Homo sapiens: one gene and its partners. The protein of the gene in region 1 purifies or fractionates together with the protein of each later gene. This does not show direct contact. Each region holds a gene or a part of one and is shown in the gene's direction. Other genes may lie near its edges. The genes, in order: ITGA5, PCDH1 and RAB35.

The links.
Region 2: the proteins of ITGA5 (region 1) and PCDH1 purify together in Homo sapiens (affinity purification with mass spectrometry; one large-scale study listed by BioGRID and IntAct). This does not show direct contact.
Region 3: the proteins of ITGA5 (region 1) and RAB35 purify together in Homo sapiens (affinity purification with mass spectrometry; one large-scale study listed by BioGRID and IntAct). This does not show direct contact.

Annotation. Positions count from the first base shown.
Region 1 is NC_000012.12:54,412,647-54,416,291, reverse strand, and holds part of ITGA5 (integrin alpha-5 precursor), read left to right. Parts: intron 1-3,645.
Region 2 is NC_000005.10:141,854,402-141,858,046, reverse strand, and holds part of PCDH1 (protocadherin-1 isoform 2 precursor), read left to right. Parts: intron 1-575; coding exon 576-795; intron 796-1,784; coding exon of another isoform or gene 1,785-1,810; exon of another isoform or gene 1,811-1,823; intron 1,824-3,610; coding exon 3,611-3,645. UniProt on the Homo sapiens protein: May be involved in cell-cell interaction processes and in cell adhesion.
Region 3 is NC_000012.12:120,099,710-120,103,354, reverse strand, and holds part of RAB35 (ras-related protein Rab-35), read left to right. Parts: intron 1-3,645. UniProt on the Homo sapiens protein: The small GTPases Rab are key regulators of intracellular membrane trafficking, from the formation of transport vesicles to their fusion with membranes.

The DNA of each region.
Region 1 (3,645 bases):
TCGAGACCAGCCTGGCCAACATGGTGAAACCCCATCTCTACTAAAAATAAAAAAATTAGCCGAGCGTGCTGGCACGCACCTGTAATCCCAGCTACTCGGGAAACTGAGGCAGGAGAATCCCTTGAACCTGGGAGGCAGAGATTGCAGTGAGCTGAGATCACATCTGTACTGAGCGACCCCAGACTGGGCGACAGAGTGAGACTCCATCTCAAAAAAACAACAACAAACAAACAAAAAATAAAAACAACTGAGGCTTCAGGAGTCATAGAAATTTTGAACCAGAAGTTAGTTTAGGAAACATTCAAGGGAAATCCATCATTTTATGCCAGAGAATCCAAAGCTTGAAGAGAGGCAGTGACTTGGCCCAGGACACTTGAAAGCTTGAGAGGCAGGCCAGTCTCAGCTCAGCTCCTTGTTCCCTTCTGCAACTGCCACAAGTGGAGACAGCTGTTCTTCCCCAGCCAATCATACATATCCCTTGTGAATGCACTAGGGGACCCCAAACCAGGTGTCCTCCTCTGGCCTGGCCCATGCTGCTGTAGGACCTGTAGGAGCTGGGCGCTGGTCCACTTGCTGCTCTCCACCCCTGACCTTGTCAGGCCAACAGAGTCAAACAGTAACCCAGTATTGAACTGGGACTTGGTTAATCAAAAGCTGGGGAGATAGCAGATATGAGAGGAGGGAATAAGTTGGCAATGGGGTAGACTAGAATGCTGTCGTAGAAATCAGGATTCCTGATTTCTGCTTCATATTCTGGGAGGGATTATGAGTGACCTAAGCCCATTACTTAACTCCTCTGAGATAGTTTTCCCATCTGCAGAATGAGAACATGGGACGAGGTGAGCAGCTTTGAACTTTTTCTTAGGGAGTGTCAGAACGAGGCCAGTCTGCCTTTATGCCATGTGGCCTCAGGCACCTACAGTGAAGTCTTAAAACCAGTGGATGCTCTCTACAGTGCCTTCTAGCTGTGGTAGTCTGTGTCTCCAAGGACCAACCCTTCCATTTCTGAGGCTTCAGAATAAATTCTGGCAGTTATTTCTTCTCTCAGACTCTATTTCAGAAAAGTGTACCTGCCAACCTGCATTTAGTAAGAAATAATGAATTCCTTTTCTCATTCTTTTTATTTTTATTTTTTATTTTTTTGAGACGGAGTTTCGCTCTTGTTGCCCAGTCTGGGATGCAATGGCGCAATCTCGGCTCACCGCAACCCCCACCTCCCTGGTTCAAGCGATTCTCCTGCCTCAGCCTCCTGAGTAGCTGGAATTACAGGCATGTGCCACCACGCCCAGCTAATTTTGTATTTTTAGTAGAGACGGGGTTTCGCCATGTTGGTCAAGCTGGTCTCAAACTCCCGACCTCAGGTGATCTGCCTGTCTCAGCCTCCCAAAGTGCTGGGATTACAAGCGTGAGCCACCACGCCTGGCCGTTGTTGTTGTTGTTGTTGTTGAGAAGGAGTCTCGCTCTGTCTCTGGACTGGAGTGTAGTGGCGTGATCTCGGCTCCCTGCAAGCTCCGCCTCCCAGGTTCATGCCATTCTCCTGCCTCAGCCTCCCTAGTAGGTGGGACTACAAGCGCCCGCCACCACGCCCGGATAATTTTTTTGTATTTTTAGTAGAGACGGAGTTTCACCATGTTAGCCAGGATGGTCTCGATCTCCTGACCTCGTGATCTGCCCGTCTCGGCCTCCCAAAGTGCTGGGATTACAGGCGTGAGCCACCGCACCTGGCGCTTTTCTCATTTTTTATTAACCAAAAACATCTATAGCTGCCAATCAGAGTTTCTGACCAGCATGAGATAACCAGGTTCCCACATAAGTTGATATAATTCCAGCCAAAAGCAAATACACTTGAGGTTTTAATTAGCCTAGGCCACCTTATCTGGTAAATGCATGATTTCCGTTAGGCTTTCTGAAATATTGAAAATAGCACACGGACCCTCCATTGTTACCTTCTTAGACCCCTAAAAGTGCCCAACTGCTGCAGGATTTAGGAAGCAGGAAAAAGATGTGGGAAAATAAGGACAAACTAGCTTGCATGCCATCCATGGCACCAGTCACCTCACTTGGCGTGTTGGCAGGGGAGGCACTATTTATTGGATTGACTTTAGGTTGCTGGGATGGAAGGGCCACTGCCTGTCCAGGAATAAGCCATGGGTAGTGTGCCGGGAGGAAAGGAGGCCTAGGTCTGTGTCCCTTGCCTGCATGCCAGGTATCCTGAACCATCGCACAGCCGGAATGGATATGCCCCTGGCTTGTGGGCTTTACAAGCTTTGTAAACTCTCTGTCTTGCAACCCTGCTAAACTCCAGGCTACTTCCTCAGGCCACCCCAGGAGTGTCAGGCTCAGCTCCTCTCCAAGAGCAGTGGGTGTTGGAGAAATTGGCAGCAGGAATAGGGTCCCTTGGCCTTAGCCCTGTGCTCCAGGAAACTTTGAGAGAACCTCTTCTTCACCCAGAGGAAGAGGGAGAGGGTATTGCCCAAGTCCACAGTTAGTGCCTGAACCAGAACTCTTGGCTCCTGGTCCAGTGCTCCTTTCACTGCTTCCTGTACCTCTGCTGTTCTGGTCTAGTTCAGGTTGGTGGCCCTTTCTGCTTTCTAGAGCCTGAAGGCAGCAACCAAGTTCTCTGGGGGCTGCCCCTGCTGAGAGAGGGGTCTCCTTCTCTCACATCACCCAGCCCTAGGGCGGTGCAGCCAGACCCCACAAGTGGATGTCATGCCTAAGTGAGAAGGGTGGGGCCTGGCACGGAGGTGGGGGTGTGGGAGACAAACGGAGAAGTGAGAGGTTGGAAACAGACAGGAAGCCACAGGCAGTAAACATTTCCTGTCCCCAGAGTAACGGAGACTGGCACCTCCCCTCCCCACCCCTCCTAACTTCAGGAGCTCTCCCTCTTCAGCCTACCCATCTCCTATTCCTCTGGACCCTGCCTTCTCTCCCCTCCATTCTCACCACTGGCCCTCACAGACCCCTCCTCACTCTCCTCTTCCGTCCCCTCGGACCTGTCCTCTCTGCTGCTTCCATCCCCTATACCTCCTGGGCCACTCCTCCCCGCCTCAGTATACCTGGTCTTCTTGGAAAATACCCCCAGCTCTTGTGACCTCTACCATAATCCTTCACTTTGGGCCTTCTTGCCTAGTGAGAAAGCTGAGGAAGGTATTCAAATATCAGGGAAAGGGTAGGTATTGGACGGGTTGAAAGCTGAAAGTGAACAGAAACCAATAGAGATGGAGAAATGTAAAATCTGAGATAGAGAGATAGGATTCAAAAACCAAAACCAAGAGAGCAAGCAGTCATAGGGGCAGAGGGACAGAGGGATTGAGAAGCAGTGCCAGAGGCAGACACAGAGCAGAGCAGAGGCCAAGGCTGGCAGGAGCACTGGTCCAGAGGCTGGGTCGAGTTGCCCAGGCTGCCAGATACAAGTCCTGGCAGGAGACCCTTAGGGGAAACCAAGAGAGCCAAGAGCGGTGTGGAGGTCTTGGAGGCAAGAGACCTAGGGATGAATGAGGCAGAGCTGACGGCAGGAGGACTGCCCAGGCCCTTAGCTATGACCACCCCATTACACAGGGCAAACTTCCCCTCATATCAGGGGGAACAGAAGCACTGTGTCCAGAACTGGGACCCCGGTAGAGCAGACTCTGAATTCAGTCAGCT
Region 2 (3,645 bases), on another chromosome or scaffold:
TTTGGAGGGTGCTGTTTGGAAATGAGGGAACTAACTGTTGTGGTATTGGTGAGCTGTTTGGGAGTTAGGAGTCTGCTTCTTTTAGGAAGCTGTTCTAGAAACTGCAGGCTATGCTGGTGTTTAGAGGCTGAGCTGGAATTAGGGGAGTCGGGTGGTATTATGTTACTCTGGTATTGGGCTCTACACCGTATTACAGGTCATTCTGGGATTAAAGGGAGGCTGTGCCAATATTGGGAAGCTGGGTTAGAACTAGAAGGGTTGTGCTATAACAAGCGGTTGCACTGGATGAGGGTTATTGGGGTAGCATAGGGGCTATAATAACACTGGGGCCTGCGCTGTATTGGGACTTCCAGTATGTGGACTTGGCTGTACTAGGAGCGGTCCTAGAACTCAGGAGCTGTCTTTCACTGGGGCCTGTGCTTTCGGGAGGAATGTGCTGTGCTGGGGCCTGGGTCTCTTCTTGGTTGCTGTTGAAGCCTGAGTAGGATGGTGCTTGGCTTGTACTAGGGCCTGGTATGGTGGTGGGCCCTGTGGGCAAGCTGGCTGGTCAGTAGTGACAATCTGTCTCCCTGCAGTTACCTCACCGCCGCGTCACCTTCTCGGCCACCAGCCAGGCCCAGGAGCTGCAGGACCCATCCCAGCACAGTTACTATGACAGTGGCCTGGAGGAGTCTGAGACGCCGTCCAGCAAGTCATCCTCAGGGCCTCGACTCGGTCCCCTGGCCCTGCCTGAGGATCACTATGAGCGCACCACCCCTGATGGCAGCATAGGAGAGATGGAGCACCCCGAGAATGGTGAGGCGCAGCACCATGGTCAGGGCACCCCAGGAATGAGTGGAAGCCTGGGAATGGTGACAAGGCCTTAAACAAATCATCTATGTATTGAGTTATTATGTGCTCAGTCATCATCACCGTGCTGAGGGCTTTCAGGTATACACGCATTTAATCCCCAGAACCACTCTGTGATTTGAGAACTTTATGGCACCCACTTTACAGTGGAGGAAACTGAGGCTTAGAGAGGTTAAGTCACTTGCCCAAAGTCATACATCTAGAACGTGACAGACCTGGGAGGGATTCAAACCCAGGTTTCTCTGACTCCAAAGCTGTTGCATTCGGCACCATGTTTACACGGCCACCTGGGAACAGGGACCCTGAGTGTGGTGGCCAGAAAGCTCACGTAATGGTGAGGAAACCTTGAGAAGGTGGGTGGTGGTCCTCTAAGGTTGGGAAGGCCTTGAGAATAGAGATTGGGCCCTGGATGCTACAGGGGGCTCAGAGAATGGAGTGACGATATGCTGGGGTGAGGAGTGGGAGAAGGTTTGGCACCTCTTTGAGGAAGAGCGCGGTAGGAGGTCTGGTGAAGAGAAAGGCCTGTCTGGGAGGGATTTGGAGGGTGATGGCAAAAAGGAGGTGTGAGCCAGCGCAGAGGTCGGCATGGGAATGGATGGTGAGGTGTGCCGTCAGTGTGTGTGCAGTGCGTGTGCATGTGTGAAGTCGTCCATGGCAGCCTGTGGAGGGGGAGAGTGAACGAGCTAACCCCTGAGATGGAAAGACTCTCTAAGTTGGAGTTGTCCTCGGGTCCCACCCACTCCCTCAACTCAAAGCCTCCTCGCTCCACAAAAGATGGGAGGTTTCACTCCCCTGCCTCAGGCACAGGGCCCTTGTCTAACCTCCCGGGCCCTTGTCTAACCTCCCAGGCCCTAGGTCTCAGAGTGCCCTCCACCCCCACCCCGCCCCTCCATGCGCGATCTCATGCCCGTCTCATCCTTTTTGTGCCCGCGCAGAGCCGGCTGGCCGGAGCAGGCCCTGAGGCAGAGTGCCAGGTATGTGGGAACTGCTCTGGGGTCTGGGGTCTGTGGGACTCTGCCCAGCACCCAGCCTCACCCACCCAGTGCCCATGCTCTGCTCTGAGCCATGTTGCGTCCCCCAACTCTGCTCTGAGCTGTAGAGCCTTGGCACTTTGAGGGTTAACAACAGAGCTGTCCCCTCCTCACCTGGCACTGGCAGGAGGCCAAGCCATAGTGGGTGGTGCCAGGGGAGCCCCTGTCCCAGGCAGTGTTGCTTAGCCATGTCCCTTGGGGGTGGGGGGGGGTCACTGCCTGGTGCTGTCCCTGAGCAAGGGCAGGACAGGGACAGCTGTGACAGGAAGTACTCATGGCCCAGCCGTTCCCATGGAGACCCCCGCTGCCCAGCAACTACACCGGCTACTGCTGATGTCAGGCAGCCAACTCCTGTTCCCGTGGGTGTTCTGGGCAGGGAGCTGGGGCAAGGCCAGGGGTGGTGGCTGGTTTAGGGGCCAGAGTGAGGTGGGGAGGGGCTGCATGAGCGTGCTTGTGGATGTGAGTGTGTGCCTCTATGTGAATACCCCACACAGAAGCTCGTCCCTTCCCCCTGGCTTTAAAGCAAGGTCTTGCAGGAGGAGGGTGGGTTCAGGACCACCGGGAGCATGTGAAGCTTGAGGGGGTTCTGAAGGAAGCAATGTACCCAATTTCATCTGAGGATAGAGGTGCCCACTGTAGTAGATTTGTGTATCCATGCCTATCTGTGTGTGTGAGAGGGAGAGAGAGAGAGAGTTGATTGTGTCAATCAATTCAATGAGGATGGAGGTTTCCTCAACCCCACCTGAGGATAGATTTGCACATTTAAGTCTGTCTGGAGATAGATGAGGCAGTGTGTAGATGAGTGTGTGTTTGTGCACCTGTCTGAGGGCAGATTTGGTGGGTGTGTAAGAAGAGCACTGGGGGGTAGGTGACGCTGGAAGGAATGTGTCTATTTAGGGCTTGGTGGCTCATGCCTGTAATTCCAACACTCTGGGAGGCTGAGGCAGGCGGATTGCTTGAACTCAGGAGTTCAAGACCAGCCTGGGCAACATGGCTTAAACCCCATCTCTACAAAAAAATATAAAAAATTAGCCAGGCATGGTAGTGCATGCCTATAGTCACAGATATTTGGGAGTCTGAGGTGGGAGGATTGCCTGAGCCTGGGAAATTGAGGCTGCAGTGAGCCAAGATCACACCACTGCACTCCAGCCTGGGTGACAGGAGTGAGACCCTGTCTTGAAAAAAAAAAGGATAAGGCTGGGTGCGGTGGCTCATGCTTGTAATCCCAACACTTTGGGAGGTCAAGGTGGGTGGATCACCTGAGGTCAGGAGTTCAAGACCAGCCTGGTCAACCTGGTGAAACCCCATCTCTACTAAAAATCCAAAAATTAACCAGATATGGTGGTGGGCGCCTGTAATCCCAGCTACTCGGGAGGCTGAGGCAAAAGAATTGCTTGAACCCGGGAGGTGGAGGTTGCAGTAAGCCGAGATTGCGCCATTGCACTCCAGCCTGGGTGACAAGAGCAAGACTCCATCTCAAAACAAAGAAAAAGAAAAAGAAAAAAGATAGATTATGTGTGTGTGCGTGTGCGTGTGTACAGTAGGCCAGTAGGTCGATGGTGGGAGGGCATGTGTCTCTTTGAGGGTGTGTGTGCCTGTGAGTTCAGCGGTCAGGAAGGGGCGCATACTCCTGTCCTGAGGTGGGGTGTAGATGCCAGTGGGAGGCCATGAAGCAGAGCTTTGCAGAGGCTGTATGTCTGACAATTGTCCTTCCCCGCTCCCTCCTACAGACCTTCGCCCTTTGCCTGATGTCGCCATGACAGGC
Region 3 (3,645 bases), about 66 Mb from region 1:
GAACACGGTGCATGTCAGCAGGCCCTTCCCTACCCTTAAAGCTGTTCCTGGGAAATCCGGCCGCCCACCGGTTGCCCACCTTTGTGGCTGAGCTGCAGGCCGGGGGGAAGCTGGGCTCCTGCGCAGATGGGCAGTGTCCTTCGGAGCGGCTCCTGGTTATTGGGTTGTTAGTGGAGCAGGTTTTAGGAAAGAGCAGGGTCTGAAGGGGCCGATTTGGAGCTGTTGGGCTGTGTGTCCTTAGGCAAGTTGCCGAAGCTCTCTGCGCTCGTTTCCTGGAGGGCCTGCCTCTGGGATTGGCTTCCATGTGGAGGGTGCCAGGTGCTCTGCTGCAGGCGTCAACGTGCGTGCCGGGGTGTGGTGTCTGGCAGCTCTGTGTGCTTGGTGCTGCTGTCATCCCATTTGACAGAGGGCGCCCTGGAGGGGTCCCTCCCAGCGGCCAAGCCTGTGCTCCACACAGTGGCCTGTGCAGAGTGAGGGGCGGCTGTCTGGCTCCACGGGCACCTCCTTGGCTCTCTCGAGCAGCTCCTCTGGAAGTGACCTCAGGAAGGCGAATGAGGAAGTCCCAGCCAGCGGCCCCCTTCCTTCCCACAGCATGAAAGCCCGGCACTCCCCAGGCTGGCTGCCCCTGCCCCCGGGCCCCTCGGCATCTCCCGAGGGTGGGAAGTGTGGGGTGCAGCGCCCCCATGGATGGCTGGGAGTATGGGGGAGAGCAGGGCTGCTGGAGAGGGACAGGTGTGCTGGGCGAGCAGCTCCTGGGGCTGGAGCCAAGGCGGAGGGCTTGTCACTGGGTTCACCCTATGCTGAGCACATTTGTGCTGTGGCCCGTGATGCCCGGAATCCCTGGGAGCTCCCAGTCCCGGGGTCGCCCTGGTGTGGTGCTGTGTGGTGACCGTTGATGAGCCCTGTGAGCGAGGGCTCTGTGGCCTGCATGTCTTGGCAGCTGCCAGTGAGAATCTGCGGAGGACACTGGGGCAGGGCTGGCATCAGTGCTTTGGGCAGCCTGGGGCTGCAGGCCCAGGCGAGGCAAGCCCTCATGCCGTTGGCTGGTCTGGGCGCTGACCTCATGAATCCTTGCTCTGGGTTGGTCCTGTCGCTAGGATTTCAGCTGCTTTATTTTGGTTAATCCCGGTAGAGAGACCTGTGACTATCTCCATTTTATGGACAGGAAAACAGGCCCAGGGAGGATGAAGCCTCCTAACTCAGTGGGGCAGAGGTTGGGGGCACTCAGGGTTGGCCCTGAGTCTGCCGAGGCCCTGCATCGACTGGGCAGGTGGCGCCCCTGCCTTCCTGCCCCGTCCTGTGCCTTAAAACCAGGCGGAGGTTCAGGGTGGCAGAGGTTCAGAGGCCCGTGGCCATGAGGAATGAACTCCTGGGCAGGGCAGTGGGGCCTGGGGGGTCCGAGGCTCTTTCAGCAGGAGGAGCCACAGCCCCTCCCTGCCATCATGCAGTCAGCTGCTTTCTGGGCTGGGCAGAGCGGGAAGAAGGTGAACTGGTTCCTCCATTCCGTGGGGAGGCGGGGAGGAGTCACTCAGCTTCCTGGGAGCAACATGGGTTTTTCCCCAGGGGCTTGGGAAGGGGCGGCCTGTGGGCAGCGGCTGGGCCCCTGCTGCCGTCCCACGTGTCTGGGGAAGCAGACAGGTGGCTCCATCTTAGAGTCCCGCTCTGGCCCTCATGAGGCAGGAGGCCCAGCAGGGCGCCCTGAGGGGCCACTGGAAGTCTCGACGCCCTTTGATGGTCACTGGCAAAGAAGGAAGGAGTTTTGGGGAGGTGAGGAGTTTTCAGGAATAGGGCAGTCAGGATGCAGTAGCGTGACTTTTTTCCGATGCAGGGCGTTCAGAGAGAAACTGAAACTGCATCCTGTTAGCCTGGCGAGAAAAAGCCTTGTGGTCACCCCTTCTCGGGTTCTTGCTCTCAGAAGCTGAGGTTTGCCGGCCCTGAGAGGTGCGGGTGGGATGGAGGTGAGGGGAGAAGTGACAAGGAAGGCAAGGCCCTGGCGTTGGGCCTGGGAGTCAGCCCTGGGCGCCAGGACTTCCAGCTGGCCGCTGCACTCAGCCTCACGTCCTTGCTGGTCACATGGCCATCCTGAGGTCTGCTGGATCAGGTGGCTGCAGACATTAATAAGGTAATGGATACCAAGCCCCCAGCTCTGTGCCTGGCCTAGAGCAGAGTCCCTGTGAGTGAAGGTGATTCCTGGTGGCCATGGGAAACGTCGGTGCTCCGGTTCCTCCTAGCCAGAGCTCTGAGCCCCTGACTTCATCCCCAGACAAATTCTCTGCTCTCAGATAAAGCCCCTTTCCTGGGCCCCGGATGAGGCAGAGGCGCCCAGGGAGCCGCGGGGGCTGTGCGCCGGGGCCATGGCTGCAGGCGTTTCTTGGCATCTCTGATCATCTTCAGCAAAGGAGAGTCTGCAGAGCCATCCGCTCCTTGGGCTTCCTCTGCTGGCAGGGGACAGTCGCCTGTTCCTGTGGCTCCGGCGCGCCCTCGCTCTGGAAGGCGTCTGACACACCATGCCATGTGCTGACCCGGCGCTCTCAGCAGCAGCTGCCAAGGCCAGAGCTAGTTCTTGGGCCCAGTGCCAAGAGAGCTTGATCGTCACAGCTACCCCGAAGCCAAGGAGCGACGCTGCCCTGGAAGCAAAGCTGTGGGCAGAATGAAGCCCTGGGAAGAGATCCCAGCGGTCGTGTTGAGGATGGAGCAAGGATGGGGCAGGGGCGGTGGCAGGGGCAGGTTGGGCTTTGTCCCAGGGCTGGGCAGGAGCTCTGGCTCTGCAGCATCAGGGAAGATGCTCAGGGCTGCCCCTAAGCTGCCTGTTGGTTTCCTTCCACCACCTCTGTCTGGGACCACAGATTGTCCTTGAAGGCACATTGATGATGCTGAAGAACGCATACTGACTGTTTACTGCTCCCCCGCCTTGGGGTAATGCTTAGCTCCTTTCTTCCTCATGACCACCCCAGTTAAGGACTAGCCACCTGTGTGCTATAACTGTTGAAGCTGCAAGGTGTGGCAGGGTGAATGCAGGCACCTTCCCAAGGGCCAGCCTTTCAGAGATGGAGCCAGGGTTGGTCTTTGTCCTTAGATCGGGCCTCAGATGTGAAGCATTGGCCAGAGAGCTGATGGGCAGGTGGACAGGAATGGAGCTGCAGCCACAAGTCAGCCTGGCTGCCCCATTCTTGCTCAGCCTGCGCTGACTTGGGCTGTTCCTGAACTGGGGCTTGGGCTGTCCCCATGAACCTCATGGGGGTGGAGGTAATTAGGGCTGGGGCAGGTGGCAGCCAGAAAGCCGGGAGGAAGCGGCCTGTCCACTCATGGTTTGTCTGTGTGCTGTCCTGAGGAGCCCTGGGGTGGAGGTCCCTGCGGCTTTGGGGAGAGGGGACAGAGGGACAGCTCTGGCTGATTGCACAGTGTGGGGCGGGGCTGCCGCCTGGCCTCCGGCTCTTCGACAGCTCTCGGGGAAGCGGAGGCTGTGGTCCCCCTCCTCCTCCGGGGATTGATGTCGTCCTGTGCCACTGGGATGAATGGGGACATGGGGTCTGGAGAGGAGAGTTGGGCCTCCCCTTCCTTCTGGCCTTCCTGGCTGGCCCTGGGCTCTGCATGTTTGGGGTGATGGCTTTGCTGGGCGCCCTCTCCCCAGCCATCCCTGGATGC